Regions from separate parts of the Homo sapiens genome. Here region 1 is linked to region 2. Evidence: fine-mapped expression QTL. Tissue or cell type: whole blood. Region 2 holds a variant in brackets; the other region holds the start of a gene. All regions are shown on one strand. Distances are between the middles of the regions.

Region 1 (8,000 bases), 65 kb after region 2:
TCCCCATTCAGCAGGGTCACGAAGGCTGCGGTGGGAGGAGGGCAGTGCGAGGTCAGCCGGGCCCTGAGGGCCTGCCCCTCCACCCCGCCACCCTGCAAACCAGGTGGGACCTCCAAATGCTGGGCATCTCAGGTGCCTGCTGATCTGAGCAGTTGCCAGCCTTGGCGACTCACACAGGCGAGAGCGCCTGCCATTGACTCTAGGCTCCACGAAGCCCACTCCCTCTCCCAGCCCTGCGTCCACCTGCACCCACAGCAGCGCTCACCAACTGTGGGCCTGGCTCTGTCCTAAGAACGCTGTGGGTCACTCGGGTGATACCAAGGGCAGTGGTTAAGCCCATGCTCACTGGGGCCCAGATTTAAGCCCCAAGCCCCAGGTGGCTTTGGGGGTATCAGTTTCCTCATCTCTCAAATGGATATAACTTAATCATCACAATCACCATTTTGCCAGAGAGGAAACGGGCCCAGAGCAGCACCCCTGTGCCCCGAGTAGGGGAGCCTGGACTTGAACCCAGGCAGCCGGACTCCAGAGGCCCACTCTACACACTGCCCACCCCTGCCACCTTTCCAGGCCACCAGTGCCCCTGAACCCTGCTGCCACGTGCTGCCCCAGATTTGCGATCCACCCAGCGGCCGCAGGAAGCTTTGTTCAAAACGATCACGCCACATCCATCTTGTGGCTTCTAGCTGCAGGGTGCAGTGCAGCCTGTGCGGGCTCGCTGACCTCCCCTCCCATCTCACCGCTGCCACCCGGACCACGCCAGGCACACTCCAGAGGGGCCTTTGCAGCTGCTGTTTCTTGAGCATGGAACACTGAGCCCCACCTCCTCACCTGGTTAACCTGGACCCACCCAGGTAGAAACCCTGTCTCTACTAAAAATACAAAAATTAGCCGGGCATGGTGGCACATGCCTGTAATCCCAGCTACTCGGGAGGCTGAAGCAGGGGAATGGGCTGAACCCAGGAGGCGGAGGTTGCAGCGAGCCGAGCTCGCGCCACTGCACTCCAGCCTGGCGACAGAGCAAGACTCCATCTCAAAAAAAAAAAAAAAAAGACCACACAAGCAGGGGTGACTGGCTGAGTGAGGCAAGAGGGGTAAGAAGAGAATGAACCCACGGCCAAACGTTGTCAAGAATTAGCTCAATGCCAAGCGAGTGGAGTAGGAAGAGAATCAGCCCGATGCCCAGTGTTCTCCAAGGAGAACATGAAGGCTGTCCCAAGATGACAGGATGACAGGCAGATTGGGGCAACCTGCCATGTTGGCCTGGGGGGCAATACTGGGCCTGAAGCTCAGAGCAGCAGACAGTGAGCCAGGCCCTCCCATCTTCAGGGATGGTCACTCCCTGCCCTGGCCCGCCCCATGGCCCCACAAACCTGTCCCTTTGTATTTGTCCACAAAACAGTATTTGAGCTCATAGTCACTGAGCAGGTCATGTACTTCCTGTGGAGATACAAGACAAAAGACAGGGAGTTACTGGAGATGGAAGGGGGCAACCCAGTGCCGCTTCATAGCTGCCACCAGCTATGAAGGCAGGTCAATTACCACCCCCCATTTTACCAATGAGGAAACTGAGGCTCGATGCAGTAATTTTGTCAAGGTCATTCTGCTCATACCTGGCAGAGATGGGATTCAGAACCTAGCTGCAGACTGTGCTATTACCCAGGCAACATGCTCTTAGAGGGTATACCTTTAGCTGGCTGGGCGGGGTGGCTCACGCTTATAATCCCAGCATTTTGGGAGGCCGAGGCGGGTGAATCACCTGAGGTCAGGAGTTCGAGACCAGCCTGGCCAACATGGTGAAACCTTGTCTCTACTAAAAATACAAAAATTAGCCAGGAGTGGTGGCGCACACCTGTAATCCTAGCTACTCGGGAGGCTGAGGTAGGAGAACTGCTTGCACCCAGGAGGCAGAGGTTGCAGTGTGCCACTGCACTCCAGCCTGGGTGACAAAGGGAGACACTGTCAACAACAATAACAACAAGGCCGGGCGCGGTGGCTCACGCCTGTAATCCCAGCACTTTGGGAGGCCGAGGCGGGTGGATCACGAGGTCAGGAGATCGAGACCATCCTGGCTAACAAGGTGAAACCCCGTCTCTACTAAAAATACAAAAAAATTAGCCGGGCGCGGTGGCAGGCGCCTGTATTCCCAGCTACTCGGGAGGCTGAGGCAGGAGAATGGCGTGAACCCGGGAAGCAGAGCTTGCAGTGAGCCGAGATTGCGCCACTGCAGTCCGCAGTCCAGCCTGGGCGACAGAGCGAGACTCCGTCTCAAAAAAAAAAAAAAAAAAAAAAAAAAATAACAACAACAAAAAAAAAAAAAAAAAAAGAGGCCGGGCTCACGCCTGTAATTCCAGCACTTTGGAGGCTGAGGCAGGCGGGTCACAAGATCAAGAGATCGAGACCATCCTGGCCAGGAAGGTGAAACCCCATCTCTACTAAAAATACAAAAATCAGCTGGCTGTGGTGGCGTGCACCTGTAGTCCTAGCTACTCGGGAGACTGAGGCAAGACAATTGCTTGAACCCGAGGGGTGAAGGTTGCAGTGAGCAGACATCAAGCCACTGCACTCTAGCCTGGCGACAGAGTGAGACTCCGTCTCAAAAAAAAAAAAAAAAAAAAAAAGAGTATGCCTTTAGGGAAGCCATTTAACCTGCATGAACCTCCTTTTGCAAGATTCACTGTTTCCAACAACTCTGTAAGTGAAGTATTAACAAACTCATGTTGTATATGAGAAAACTTAGGCTAGGAGAAGTGAAGAGATCTGCTGGAGGCCATGCAGTTGGGCAGCGCAGCCACCCATGGGTACCTGACTGGGGAGCCCACCTTCTAGTAAGCCCCACGTTGTGTGGGTTCACATGCCTCCCAATTTCCTCCTGCTGATAAAGCTGCCCTCTTCCAAGCCAGCTCATTTATTTTTCTTTTTTTTAGAGATAGTGTCTTGTTCTGTCACCTAGGCTAGAGTGTAGTAGCACAATCATAGCTCACTGCAGCCTCAACCTCCTAGGCTCAAGTGATCCTCCCACCTCAGCCTCCTGCGTAGCTGGGACTACAGGCACGCACCACCATGCCTGGCTAATTTTTAAAAATTTTTTGTAGAGATGAGGGTTTCACTATACCGCCCAGGCTAGTCTCGAACCCTTGGGCTCAATACAGCCTCTTGCCTCAGCCTCTCAAAGTGCTGGGATTAAAGGGATGAGCCACCATGCCCAGCCTCTCAAGCCAGCTTTGAAGGCAAAGTGCTGGCGCCTGCTGGGACCAGACACACTGTGCATCTTGCAGGAGAGACAATGTGTTCCCAGCTGAGAGACTGCAGACACTGAGAGGAAGACCCAGAAAGAAACCTGACCATCCTTAATGATCCCTGTCCCGATCTGTCCCCAAATTCAGCCCCTCCCAACATCCCTGGGGTTCCACTAGCCACGTGCCCACCCGGTGTGCTGGTGGGCCGGAGAGCAGGGAATCTCAGCAGCAGGAAGCGAGAACCTATTTCACCGCCATAGGGCAGGGCAGTATAGATGCCATTTCCCTGGGTCCAAAGAGCATTGGGAAGCGCTGCCCCATGCTGGCCCCATGAGAAGGGCACTCCTAGCAGGAAGATTAGCCACGAGGGGCTCCATAGAACACAGGCCTCGCTTCCTTCCTGTAGGTCTGTAGGCTGGTGGCAGAAGACCCCATTTTCCCAAATTAATCCTGAGGTTTTGGGGGCTGAGACCCAGGGGCTGCTGTTAACTTCCGGATTTATCTCTGAGAGCAGTGAATAAACGCGTGATATGGAGGGGCGTACTCTCCGCAGTCCTGAAACTTCTGGATGTGAGGTCCCGCCACCCTGTGGTAGAGTGGGTGGAGAAAAGCATCATCCAAGCAGGGGGCAACTGGTGGTCCAATGTACCAGCCCATTCACAATTCCCCAACAGGACCAAAGCTGTCCGCCCCCTTCCATTCCCCGCCCGCTTCCATCACTTGGTGTCGCCCAAGCCTGTGGTCGCCCCTAGCAACGCCCTCCCTCACTTCGCAGTCGGTTTCCCCTTTCATCATCGCCCCCCCACGTCCCGCTCTTGGTCTCTCCCGATCCCGCGTGGATCCGGTGCTTGGGCGCCCCCGCCAACGACCCCCGCGCACCTCAGCGTTGGTGTCGCCCGGTTCCCCCCGCGCACGCGCACCGTGGTATTTCCCGCCACGCTCCTACACCGCCCCCCCCAATACCTGGTTGGTCACGTCCCCCGGGAGGCCCCGGATCAGTATCTTGCGGCGGTTACGGAACTGGCGCTCGGTGTGTTCCAGGCGTTTCCGGATCTCTTCTGGATCTAGAGGCGGCAGCTCTTCTTCCGGCGCCCGGCGCTCCGCGGCATCGCCGGCTTCGACTTCGGCCCCAGACTTAGGGCTCAGCGGGGGCCGGTGAGTAACGGACACGTCCGCCGCCATCTTGGGAAACCCGGCGCCTTCTGGGACCAGCGAGCCGGGGCGGAGCGGCATAGAGCGGCAACGAGGGCGCGCCCGTCGATTGGCTGGGAGAAACCCCACCTCCTTCCCGCCCCCCTTGCCCCGTTGGCTAAGCCCCAGCCCACCTCTCAAGAGTTCAAGCTGCGTCTGCGCGCCACAGGCCCCGCCCCCTTCCGTCGCAGCGACGCTACTCAGTGGATGTGCACCTGGGTGGGAGAGACTTGCAGCGCGGGTGGAATCAAACCACAGATTAGGGAGTTTGAAGGCTTTATTGGTGCGGAATCTGAGGGCACAGCCAAGCCCCCGCCAACTTTGATCCCGGATCCCAGCGTCACTCAGCTCTGGACGGTTCTTCCCCCATTGCTTCTGTCGGCTGCATAGACGTGAGGGGCAGATAGGTGCTCTCCTCCCTAACATGGTAACTGCCGCTCCGTTGGTGCTCCCTGAAGACGTACATTAAGGCCAGTACGATAGTCACCACGCCCAGGGTCAGTAACACCGCCACGAAGACGGGGACAAAGTGGGAGCTCCCAGCTGTGCAGAGAAAGCGCTAAGTCAATATGCGTCCCTTCTGTCTCCAACCCCCCCGCCCCCCGGCTTACCGGTCCAGACCCGCAGCCCCGTGTTAGCTCACCCTCAATGTCCATCACCACGACCAGGGTGTATTTGCCTCGTGAGCTGGACGCTTGGCACTGATAAGTACCATTATGTGTTACGTTGACGAAGAACGGGATCCCCACCGGCACCTCCCGGCTGGAGCCTTCCTTCAAACACCGCAGCTCGGGGTACGGGTTGCCCCTGGCTTGGCACTGCAGGACGTGTCTCGTTTTATCTTTCCATTTCAAGTGCTGGGGGCATGTGGCTCGGTCAATTTTGGGACCATCTGTGGAACCACCATGTGTGATCAGACACCCAACACACCCGAGGCACAGTGGTGCAGAGGAGCGTCTAATCTTTCCAGGGCAGGGGTGGAGGGATTAAAGGTCAGGGTGACCGACTCACACAGGACTCGCAGCTGGACGCTACTGTTCCTGTGCAAGAACTCGCCGTCCACCTCGAGAGTGGCACTGCAGAAGAAGCTGCGTCCGTCGTCACTCTCGGTAGCATTTAGCTGAAGTTGAGCTGGCTGCCCCGGGGCCGCGGCCGGAACTCCGTCCAGCGTGACCTGGACTCGAGCCCCAGCCATGCAACTCACGGTCACTGTGGACCCCTCATGGGCGGTGGGCTCGCTGAGGTTCACAATGGGTCCTAGGAAGCCTAAAGGCGGGGCATTGCCCAGGAGCTTAATGAACAGGACCTTCCTGTGGGTCAAGCCGCTCCCTCCGCCCTCCCCTTTCCTCTCGGGATATCCGGGCCACGCTTTCGGCCGTTCAAGCCTCGCCCTCTTTCCGCGCTGTGTCCAGCTTCGGGCACTCAGGCCCAACCCACGTTGCAACTGCTATTGGGGCAAGCCAGGCCCCACCTTTTCGGCTAGTCTCCGCCCCCTCTGCCACGCCCCCAGACTGCTGAGGCCGCGCCCCCTTCCCACGCCTCCTCTTACTAAAGACCGTCAAGTTCTCCCGGGCCTCCCGTCTCTCGCCCCCTAGGGTCACGTTGCAGACGATCTCCCGGGCACCCTCCTGATCCGCGCGCGCCGTGGCTGTGGCTGTGGCCGTTAGCGTGTCCCCGTGGTTCATGACTGTCGCATTCAGCATCTGGTCCCCCAGCGCCAGGTAGACCTGGGCCTCTGAGGCTGGAAAAAGCCCGTCTAGGGTGCAGTCCACCGGCCACGACGTTTCCACCTCCAAGAACCGGGGGGCCACGAGGCGCGGGGGGGTCACGGGCAGGACTGGGGAGAAAGGTGGGCATAGTACAACCCCCAGGACTGTGCCTTCCCCAGGACACCCTCATCCCCCCCAGTCAGGATATCTTGCTGACTGGGTCACCCTTCTTCACAGGACACACACACAGGGCCATGAAAACGGCCTTCTTCAAAGATCCCACGGCTCGGGCCTCCCTTCCGGGGCCACCTTGCCCAGTGGCCGGGGGCTTTCCTTCCCAGAAGCCTGTGAGGTCCGGGGTACCCCACTCTCAGGAACCCCAAGGTCAGGGCACCGTCTACCCTGGCTCAGCTCGTCACCCACCGTCTGAAGCCCCTTCTCTCACCAAAGGTTCGGAGCTGGCGGGGGGCTGAGGTGTTCACGAACAGTCCCAGCCCCTGGGGCTGCATGTCCAGTTCTGTGCGGCATGAGAAAGGGGCTCCGTGGTCGTCTCTGCTGGCCAGCACAGTGGCAGTGACCTCCGCTGGCTCCTCCACTGCGGGCTGCCGGCTCAGCTCCTCCTCCCAGCGAAGCAGCACCACCGTGAGGCTGGTCCGGGGCGACCCATCCTCCACTTGGCAGCGCAGGGTGAAGTTCTGGCCCACCGGCTGCCAAGGAGGCAGGGGTGCCAGCTCCACACGCTCCGGGAGCCCTGAGAGAGGAGGGGAGGATGGCACTTAGCGGGTCCTGCAAACCCACCCACTCACCCCAGGGACTGGGGAGGAGACAGGGTGGTCCTGCCGAGAACTGTGAGCTTTGAGTTAATAAACTTAGAGGGCTTAGAGCTGGGCCAGTCGAAGCGTTTGCTATTATCATTAGCGCAGTGATTATCATTTCCTGTGTTGTCAGATACCTTGCAAGGCGCTAAACAAAACTTTCTGTTCTCAAAGATGGCACAATAAAAAAAAATGAGGATGGAAGGGATGAACGTTTATGACTATGATATGAATATTAAAAATTCCTGTTTATGGCCAGACGTGGTGGCTCACGCCTGTAATCCCAGAGCTTTGGGAGGCCGGGGTGGGTGGATCAAAAGGTCAGGATTATTCAGTTCTCTCCAATCAGGTTCAGACACTCAGGGCTTTCCTGGTTCACCAGCCCTGTGGCAGCCTCTCAAGATACTCCGGCACAGTCACAGGAGACTTGACACTCCCAGGCTGGGTGCCCTCCCCAGTACACCTACAAAACGCTGGGCCTCAGGCCGGGCACTGTGGCTCATGCCTGTAATCCCAGCACTTTGGGAGGCCAAGGTGGACGGATCACCTGAGACCAGGAGTTCAAGACCAGCCTTGCCAACATGGTGAAACCCCATCTCTACTAAAAATACAAAAATTAGCCAGGCATGGTAGCACGTGCCTGTAATCCCAGCTACTCAGGAGGCTGAGGCACAAGAATCGCTTGAACCCAGGAGGCAAAATTTGCAGTGAGCTGAGATAGTGCCACTGCACTCCAGCCTGGCGACAGAGAGAGACTCTATGTCAAAAAAAAAAAAAAAAAAAAAAAGGCTGGGCAAGGTGACTCATGCCTGTAATCCCACCACTTTGGGAGGCCGAGGGAGGCGGATCACTTGAGGTCAGGAGTTTGAGACCAACCTGGCCCATATGGCAAAACCCTGTCTCTACTAAAAATACAAAAATTAGCCGGGCATGGTGTCACACGCCTGTAATCCCAGCTACTAAGGAGGCTAAGACAGGAGAATCACTTGAACCCAGGAGGCGGAGGTTGCAATGAGCTGACATCGCGCCATTGTACTCCAGCATGG
Region 2 (8,000 bases):
GAGGCGGAGCTTGCAGTGAGCTGAGATCGCGCCACTGCACTCCAGCCTGGGTGACAGAGTGAGACTCCATCTCAAAAAAAAAAAAAAAAAATTTAGCCAGGCGTGGTGTCAGAAGCCTGTAGTCGCAACTACTTGGGAGGCTGAGGCAGGAGAATCACTTGAACCCAGGAGGTGGAGGTTGCAGTGAGCCGAGACCACATCACGGCACATCTAAAAAAAAAAAAAGTTTTCTGTTTTTGTTTTTTGCAAAACTACTGAAATAAATACAGTGAGATATTTATTTATAAATGAGAACGAATTAATAATGAGCCGTAGGCTGGGTGTGGTGGCTCATGCCTATAATCCCAGCATTTTGGGGGGCCAAGGCAGGTGGAACACTTGAGGTCAAGAGTTCGAGACCAGGCTGACCAATATAGTGGAACCCCATCTCTACTAAAAATACAAAAGAATTAGCCGGGCATGGTGCCGGGCGCCTGTAATCTCAGCTATGGGAGGCTGAGGTAGGAGAATCGCTTAAACCCTGGAGGCGGAGGTTGCAGTGAGGCGATATCACGCCACTGCACTCCAGCCTGGGGGACAGAGCGAGACTCCATCTCTAAATAAATAAATAAGGAGCTGTATTTCAAAATTTGGAGAAGGTGACACTGAGAGTACTGAATACACAGTTTTTTGTTTTTTTGGTTTTTTTTGAGACAGAGTCTCGCTCTGTCACCCAGGCTGGAGTGCAGTGGTGCAACCTCGGCTCACTGCAATCTCTGCCTCCCGGTTCAAGCAAATCTCCTGCCTCAGCCTCCCGCGTAGCTGGGATTACAGGCACGCATCCCCATGCCTGGCTAATTTTTGTATTTTTAGTAGAGACGGGATTTCACCATATTGGTCAGGCTGATCTCAAACTCCTGACCTCGTGATCTGCCTGCCTCGGCCTCCCAAAGTGCTGGGATTACAGGCGTGAGCCACCGAGCCTGGCCCCAAAAAATATTTATCAAAACTATGTTAATGCTGGCCGGGTGCGGTGGCTCATGCCTGTAATCCCAGCACTTTGGGAGGCCGAGGCAGGTGGAACACGAGGTCAGGAGATTGAGACCATCCTGGCTAACACGGTGAAACCCCGTCTCTACTAAAAAATACAAAAAATTAGCCGGGCGCGGTGGTGGGTGCCTGTAGTCCCAGCTACTCAGGAGGCTGAAGCAGGAGAATGGCAGGAACCGGGGAGGCAGAGGTTGTAGTGAGCTGAGATCGCGCCATTGCACTCCAGCCTGGGCGACAGAGCGAGAATCCGTCTCGAAAAAAAAAAAAAAATACACACACACACACAAAAACTGTGTTAATGCTTAACTACACAAAAATGATAATCAGATAAATATGCATTTATTTAGAGAACTGCATGTTGGTCAGTCCAGTCCCTGCAGAGGGAATTCCCAGCATGACCTCATTCACTTGTGAAGACAGAGCAATCCTTGTGTTTTATTTTTTTAAGATGGATCTCACTCTGTTGCCCAGACTGGAGTGCAGTGGCATGATCTCAGCCCTCTGCCACCTCCACCTTCCGGGTTCAAGAGATTCTCATGCCTCAGCCTCCTGAGTAGCTGAGATTACAGGCTTGTGCCTCCATGCCCAGCTAATTTTTTTATTTTTACTAGAGATGAGGTTTCACCAGTTTGGGCAGGCCGGTCTCAAACTCCTGACCTCAAGTGATCCACCCACCTCGGCCTCCCGAAGTGCTGGGATGACAGGTGCCTGGTCAGCAACTGTTGTTTAGACATACACATTTTATCTGCTCGTCCAGCATGGTCAGCCCTCCACTTTTTAAATTTTATTTTATTTATTTTTTTGAGACAGAGTCTCACTCTGTTGTCCAGGTTGGAGTCCAGTGGCGTGATTTCGGCTCACTGCAACCTCTACTTCCCAGGTTCGAGCAATTCTCCTGCCTCAGCTTCCCGAGTAGCTGGGATTACAGGCCCGCGTCCCCACACCTAGCTAATTTTTGTATTTTTAGTAGAGACAGGGTTTCACCATGTTGGCCAGGCTGGTCTCGAACTCCTGACCTCAGGTGATTCTCCTGCCTTGGCCTCCCAAAGTGCTGAGATTACAGGTGTGAGCCACTGCACACGGCCTTAAATTTTATTTATTATTTATTTATTTATTTATTTAGAGACTTAGTCTCACTCTGTTGCCCAGGCTGGAGTGCAGTGGCATGGTCTCGGCTCACTGCACTCCACCTCCTGGGTTCACGCCATTCTCCTGCCTCAGCCTCCCGAGTAGCTGGGACTACAGGCGCCCACCACCACTCCCGGCTAATTTTTGTATTTTTAGTAGAGATGGGGTTTCACTGTGTTAGCCAGGATAGTCTCGATCTCCTGACCTCGTGATCCGCCTGCCTCGGCCTCCCAAAGTGCTGGGATTACTTATTTTGTTTTTTGTAGAGACAGGTTCTCACTGTGTTGCCCAGGCTGGTCTTGAACTCCTGATCTCAAGTGATCTTCCCACCTCAGTCTCTCAAAGGGCTGGGATTACAGGGGTGAGCCACTGCACCCCACCTTCCCTCTACTTTTTGACGGTTTCCTTCTGCTATGAATGTGCATGTCCAGTTGTCTGCTTCTTAGAACTGATATTTACCTTCCTCATCCATCAGCCATTGGAGGAGGACTGGGACCGCTCAGATTATTGATCTGACCCATTCTTTCGGCAGGGTTTCCTGGTGGCTGTCTTCCATCACCAAAACTGGAATCAGAAGAGTTTCCATAGCCCTTTTTTTTTCCCCACATCTTTGCTGAAGCAGAGTTTTGAAAAACAAAACCACAAACTAAGCTATTCCCCAGAAGAAATCTGTAATCAAAGATAAGCTCTGCCGGGCACAGTGGCTCACGCCTTTTGGAGGCCAAGGCGGGCGGATCACCTGAGGTCAGGAGTTCTAGACCTGCCAGGCCAACATGGTAAAACCTCATCTCTACTAAAAATACAAAAATTAGCTAGATGTGGTGGTGGGTACCTGTAGTCTCAGCTACCTGGGAGGCTGAGGCAAGAGAATCGCTTGAACCTGGGAAGTAGAGGTTGCAGTGAGCCGAGATTGCACCACTGCACTCCAGCCTGGGCGACGGAGTGAGACGACCTCACAAAAATTTACATAAATAAAATGAAAAGTAAAATAAAAATACAAAAGTTGGCCGGGTGCGTTTGCTCACGCCTGTAATCCCAGCACTTTGGGAGGGTGAGGCAGGCAGATAATGAGGTAAGAAGATCGAGACCATCCTGGCTAACACGGTGAAACCCTGTCTCTACTAAAAATACAAAAAATTAGCTGTGCGTGGTGACACGCACCTGTAGTCCCAGCTATTTGGGAGGCTGAGGCAGGAGAATCACTTGAACCTGGGAGGTGGAGGTTGCAGTGAGCCGAGATCGCACCACTGCACTCCAGCCTGGGCCACAGAGTGAGACTCCATCTTGAAAAAAAAAAAAAATACAAAAGTTAGCCAGGGGTGTTGGTGGGTGCCTGTAATCCCAGCTATTTGGGAGGCTAAGGCAGAAGAATTTCTTGAACCTAGGAAAC[G/A]GAGGTTGCAGTGAGCCGAGATCACACCTCTGTACTCCAGCCTGGACAACAGAGCGAGACTTTGTCTCAAAAAAAAAAAAAAAAAAAAAACTAAATAGGCCGGGAGCAGTGGCTCATGCCTATAATCCCAGCCCTTTGGGAGGCCAAGGCAGGTGGATCACTTGAGGTCAGGAGTTTGAGACCAGGCTGGCCAACATGGTGTAACCCCGTCTCTACTAAAAACACAAAAATTAGCCGGGTCTGGTGGCGTATGTCTGTAATCCCAGCTACTCGGGAGGCTGAGGCAGGAGAATCACTTAAACCTGGGAGGCAGGGGTTGCAGTGAGCTGAGATCGTGCCACTGCACTCTAGCCAGGGTGACAGAGTGAAACTCTGTCTCAAAAAATTAAAAAAGAAATTCAGCAAGTAATGAGTTAAGGAATTCGAATATTAAGGCGAGTGACAAGGAACGCCCAGGATGTGGCCCAGGATGGAGTAGGGGGGACACTCATTTAGGAGAAAGCTCAGGCCACAAGACAGGAGGAGCCAGCCTTGTTGGGGTTGAAGGGAAGAGCATTCCAGGCTGAGGGAACTGCAAGGCGTTTGCATGGGACACTATGGGATGGCTTCTGCCCTTGGTGGGCAGCCTCTGGTCTGAGGCCATTCTTTGGCCTGCCTGACTGTCTGGCAACCGGGAGGAAGCCCTGCCCTTCCTGGAGACAGAAACAAAGGTCTAGGAAATATCTGCTTCCCTTTTCCTTGAAAAACGCTTAAGGGAACGGAGGACTGGGAGGTGCCGTCTCTCTCTGCCAGCCTGCCCCCTACCATAGCCATCCCACTCCCATCTCAGAAAGTGACCCGCCATCCTCCAAAAGGCTCGGACCCTGATCAAGGAGTCATCCCCCTTGTCCCAGCACCTCCAGTTGGCCCAGCCTCCAAAACGGATGTCAAATTCAGCCCTTTCTCCAAGGACACTGCCCAGTCCAGGCCCCACTATCATTCATCTGGACTAGAACAGTCACCTCCTCTCCCATCTCCTGGCTGCAGCTCTTGAAGCCTCAACTGGGCCCCTGTGAACACTTGAGTTAGGGCAAGGTCCTTCCTCTGCTCAGAACCCTCTATACCTCCCACCTCGCTGGGCATAAAAGCCAAAGTCCTGGCCAGGCACGGTGGCTCACATCTGTTATCCCAGCACTTTGGGAGGCCAAGGGGGGCGGATCACTAGAGGTCAGGAGTTAGAGACCAACATGGTGAAACCCCATCTCTACTAAAAATACAAAAATTAGCTAGGCGTGGTGACGCACCCCTGTAGTACCAGCTACTCGGTAGGCTGAGGTGGGAGAATCGCTTGAACCTGGGAGGCAGAGTTTGCAGTGAGCCGAGATCACACCACTGTGCTCCAGCCTGGGTGACAGAACGAGACTGGGGTTCAGAAACAAACAAACAAAACAACAAAGTCCTCCTCAGGTGACAGGAACTTGCACCTATCTGCCCTGTCATCTCCCTGCCCGCTCCTCTCCTCGAATCTCTCCTTTGCTAAGCCTGCTCCAGCCACACTGTTCTCCTGGCTGTTCCTTTTTTTTTTTTTTTTTTTTTTTTTTTGAGTCTCACTCTCACCCAGGCTGGAGTGCAGTGCCTCTATCTTGGCTCACTGCAACCTCCGCCTGCCGGGTTCAAGAGATTCTCCTGCATCAGCCTCCCAAGTAGGTGGAATTACAGGTGTGCACCACCACACCCGGCTAATTTTTGTATTTTGCATAGAGATGGGGGTCTCCCTATGTTGCCCAGGCTGGTCTTGAACTCCTGGGCTCAAGTGATCCTCCCATCTCGGCCTCCCAAAATGCTGGGATTACAGGTGGGAGCCGCGCCCAGGTGGATTTTTGTCTGACTCTGTTCATTCCTGTGTCCCCAGTACCTGGAAGGACGCCAAGCACACAGTAGGCGCTTAAAAAACATTGAGCCACATGTTGAGAAAAGAACGGCACCATTGTGGCTGCAAGTGGGACTTGGGCCGCGCGGGGGAGCTCGCGCACCTCGGGCCGGGGCAAGAGCTCAGTGGAACCCGCCCGAGGAAGAACCCGTGGCGCAGGATTTTCCCAGGCCTTCTGAGGACCAGGGGCGTCCCCCGTCCCACCCTGTGACTTTGCTCAGGCCGTTCCGGGGCGGGAATTCAGAACTCCTCAGCCCCCCAAGAAAAAAATATCCCCGTGGAAATTCCTTGGGAATGACCGAGGCGGGGGAAATATGCGTCTCTGGATGGCCAGTGACTCGCAGCCCCCTTCCCCGATAGGAAGGGCCTGCGCGTCCGGGGACCCTTCGCTTCCCCTTCTGCTGCGCGACCTCCCTGGCCCCTCGGAGATCTCCATGGCGACGCCGCGCGCGCCCCACAACAGGAAAGCCTTAGGCGGCGCGGCTTGGTGCTCGGAGACTTAAGAGTACCCAGCCTCGACGTGGTGGATGTCGAGTCTTGGGGTCACACGCACAGGCGGTGGCCAAGCAAACACCCGCTCATATTTAGTGCATGAGCCTGGGTTCGAGTTGCCGGAGCCTCGCGCGTAGGGCAGGGGTTCGAGCGCCCCTTCTCCCTGCCTCGCCTCTGCGCCTGGGGGCTGCTGCCTCAGTTTCCCAGCGACAGGCAGGGATTTCGAGCGTCCCCCTCCCCTCCCTCGTCAAGATCCAAGCTAGCTGCCTCAGTTTCCCCGCGGAGCCTGGGACGCCAGCGGAGGGGCTCGGCGCGTAGGGATCACGCAGCTTCCTTCCTTTTTCTGGGAGCTGTAAAGACGCCTCCGCGGCCAAGGCCGAAAGGGGAAGCGAGGAGGCCGCCGGGGTGAGTGCCCTCGGGTGTAGAGAGAGGACGCCGATTTCCCCGGACGTGGTGAGACCGCGCTTCGTCACTCCCACGGTTAGCGGTCGCCGGGAGGTGCCTGGCTCTGCTCTGGCCGCTTCTCGAGAAATGCCCGTGTCAGCTAGGTGTGGACGTGACCTAGGGGGAGGGGCATCCCTCAGTGGAGGGAGCCCGGGGAGGATTCCTGGGCCCCCACCCAGGCAGGGGGCTCATCCACTCGATTAAAGAGGCCTGCGTAAGCTGGAGAGGGAGGACTTGAGTTCGGACCCCCTCGCAGCCTGGAGTCTCAGTTTACCGCTTTGTGAAATGGACACAATAACAGTCTCCACTCTCCGGGGAAGTTGGCAGTATTTAAAAGTACTTAATAAACCGCTTAGCGCGGTGTAGACCGTGATTCAAGCTTAGCCTGGCCGGGAAACGGGAGGCGTGGAGGCCGGGAGCAGCCCCCGGGGTCATCGCCCTGCCACCGCCGCCCGATTGCTTTAGCTTGGAAATTCCGGAGCTGAAGCGGCCAGCGAGGGAGGATGACCCTCTCGGCCCGGGCACCCTGTCAGTCCGGAAATAACTGCAGCATTTGTTCCGGAGGGGAAGGCGCGAGGTTTCCGGGAAAGCAGCACCGCCCCTTGGCCCCCAGGTGGCTAGCGCTATAAAGGATCACGCGCCCCAGTCGACGCTGAGCTCCTCTGCTACTCAGAGTTGCAACCTCAGCCTCGCTATGGCTCCCAGCAGCCCCCGGCCCGCGCTGCCCGCACTCCTGGTCCTGCTCGGGGCTCTGTTCCCAGGTGAGTCGGGGTGGGGATTGCCGTCGGGCCAGTTCTCCGAAGCCCCGGGAGGACCGGCTCCCGGGTCAGGTCATGCATGCTTAGGTAGCTGTTTATGGGAAGGAGGGGCTAGAGACAGCGATTGAAAGGCAACAGCCAGTAGGTTCGAATCCAGACCCTGCATACCTCCACGTGTGGCCTTGGGCTATAGATTGCAGCTTTAAAAAAGGGTAGGGGGTTGGAGATGGAGGGGAGGGGCGGGCCTCGTTTTGTTGCCCAGGCCGGTCTTGAACTCCGGGGGTCTAGCCTTACCTCCTGCCTCAGCCTCCCGAGTAGCTGGGATGAGAGGTGTGAACCACCGCCTTGCTTGGCTAGATTGCGTCTCTTACAGTTTCTCAGCTGTAAAACGGGAAACGTTATAGCGGCCACCTGGCAGGGTATCTTGGCCCAGCGCAGCACCTGGCCCCAGGACTCGATCATGATGGTTTGGGAACTTGGCTCTGTGCCAACCCAACAAGGCTTAAGGGACCCCCACCCCCCTCAAGATGTATATTCTGTTCCTCATCCTCTCTGCCCCTGGGGAAGTCCAGGGCTGCTTCTACTTGGGGGAATTCCAGAGCTGACTTATCCGTGGCCCAAAGCTGAGAAGTGGGACGCCCCAGCACACCCTCCCCCAGCTCCAGCCCAGCTAGGGAAGAGGGAAGGGGTCAGAGGGTCTTTCATGGTGGTGTAAGTTTGGGGAACCAGGAGGGTGGGAGATTGACAGCTTGGTTAACAGCTCAACAAAGCCTGAGATCCAGGCCAGCACGGTAGTTCATGCCAGTAATCCCAACACTTTAGGAGCCCCAGGCGGGCGAATCACTTAAGG

What was found. PIP is the estimated chance that this variant, and not a neighbour inherited with it, causes the effect.
Region 1: RAVER1 starts here. The variant in region 2 is fine-mapped to the expression of RAVER1 in whole blood (TOPMed, PIP above 0.99).

What each region holds. Positions count from the first base shown.
Region 1 is chr19:10,329,087-10,337,086 of GRCh38, forward strand. RAVER1 (ribonucleoprotein, PTB binding 1) reads right to left here and starts at 4,443. Exons shown (of 13, transcript NM_133452.3): 1 at 4,203-4,443; 2 at 1,374-1,440; 3 at 1-25. The coding sequence starts at 4,421. ICAM3 (intercellular adhesion molecule 3) reads right to left here. Exons shown (of 7, transcript NM_002162.5): 3 at 6,585-6,890; 4 at 5,980-6,267; 5 at 5,442-5,696; 6 at 5,074-5,322; 7 at 4,690-4,973. The coding sequence ends at 4,771. RefSeq lists enhancers at 2,920-3,836, 3,837-4,753, 4,244-4,463, 4,704-4,843, 5,468-6,086 and a silencer at 3,848-4,071.
Region 2 is chr19:10,264,074-10,272,073 of GRCh38, forward strand. It overlaps ICAM1 (intercellular adhesion molecule 1), which reads left to right and starts at 7,047. Exons shown (of 7, transcript NM_000201.3): 1 at 7,047-7,153. The coding sequence starts at 7,087. It overlaps LIMASI (lncRNA inflammatory and mucous response associated, antisense to ICAM1), which reads right to left. Exons shown (of 4, transcript XR_007067138.1): 2 at 2,617-2,721. RefSeq lists a silencer at 3,960-4,254 and enhancers at 6,609-6,698, 7,609-7,848. The variant G/A (reference allele first, on the strand shown) is at 3,548.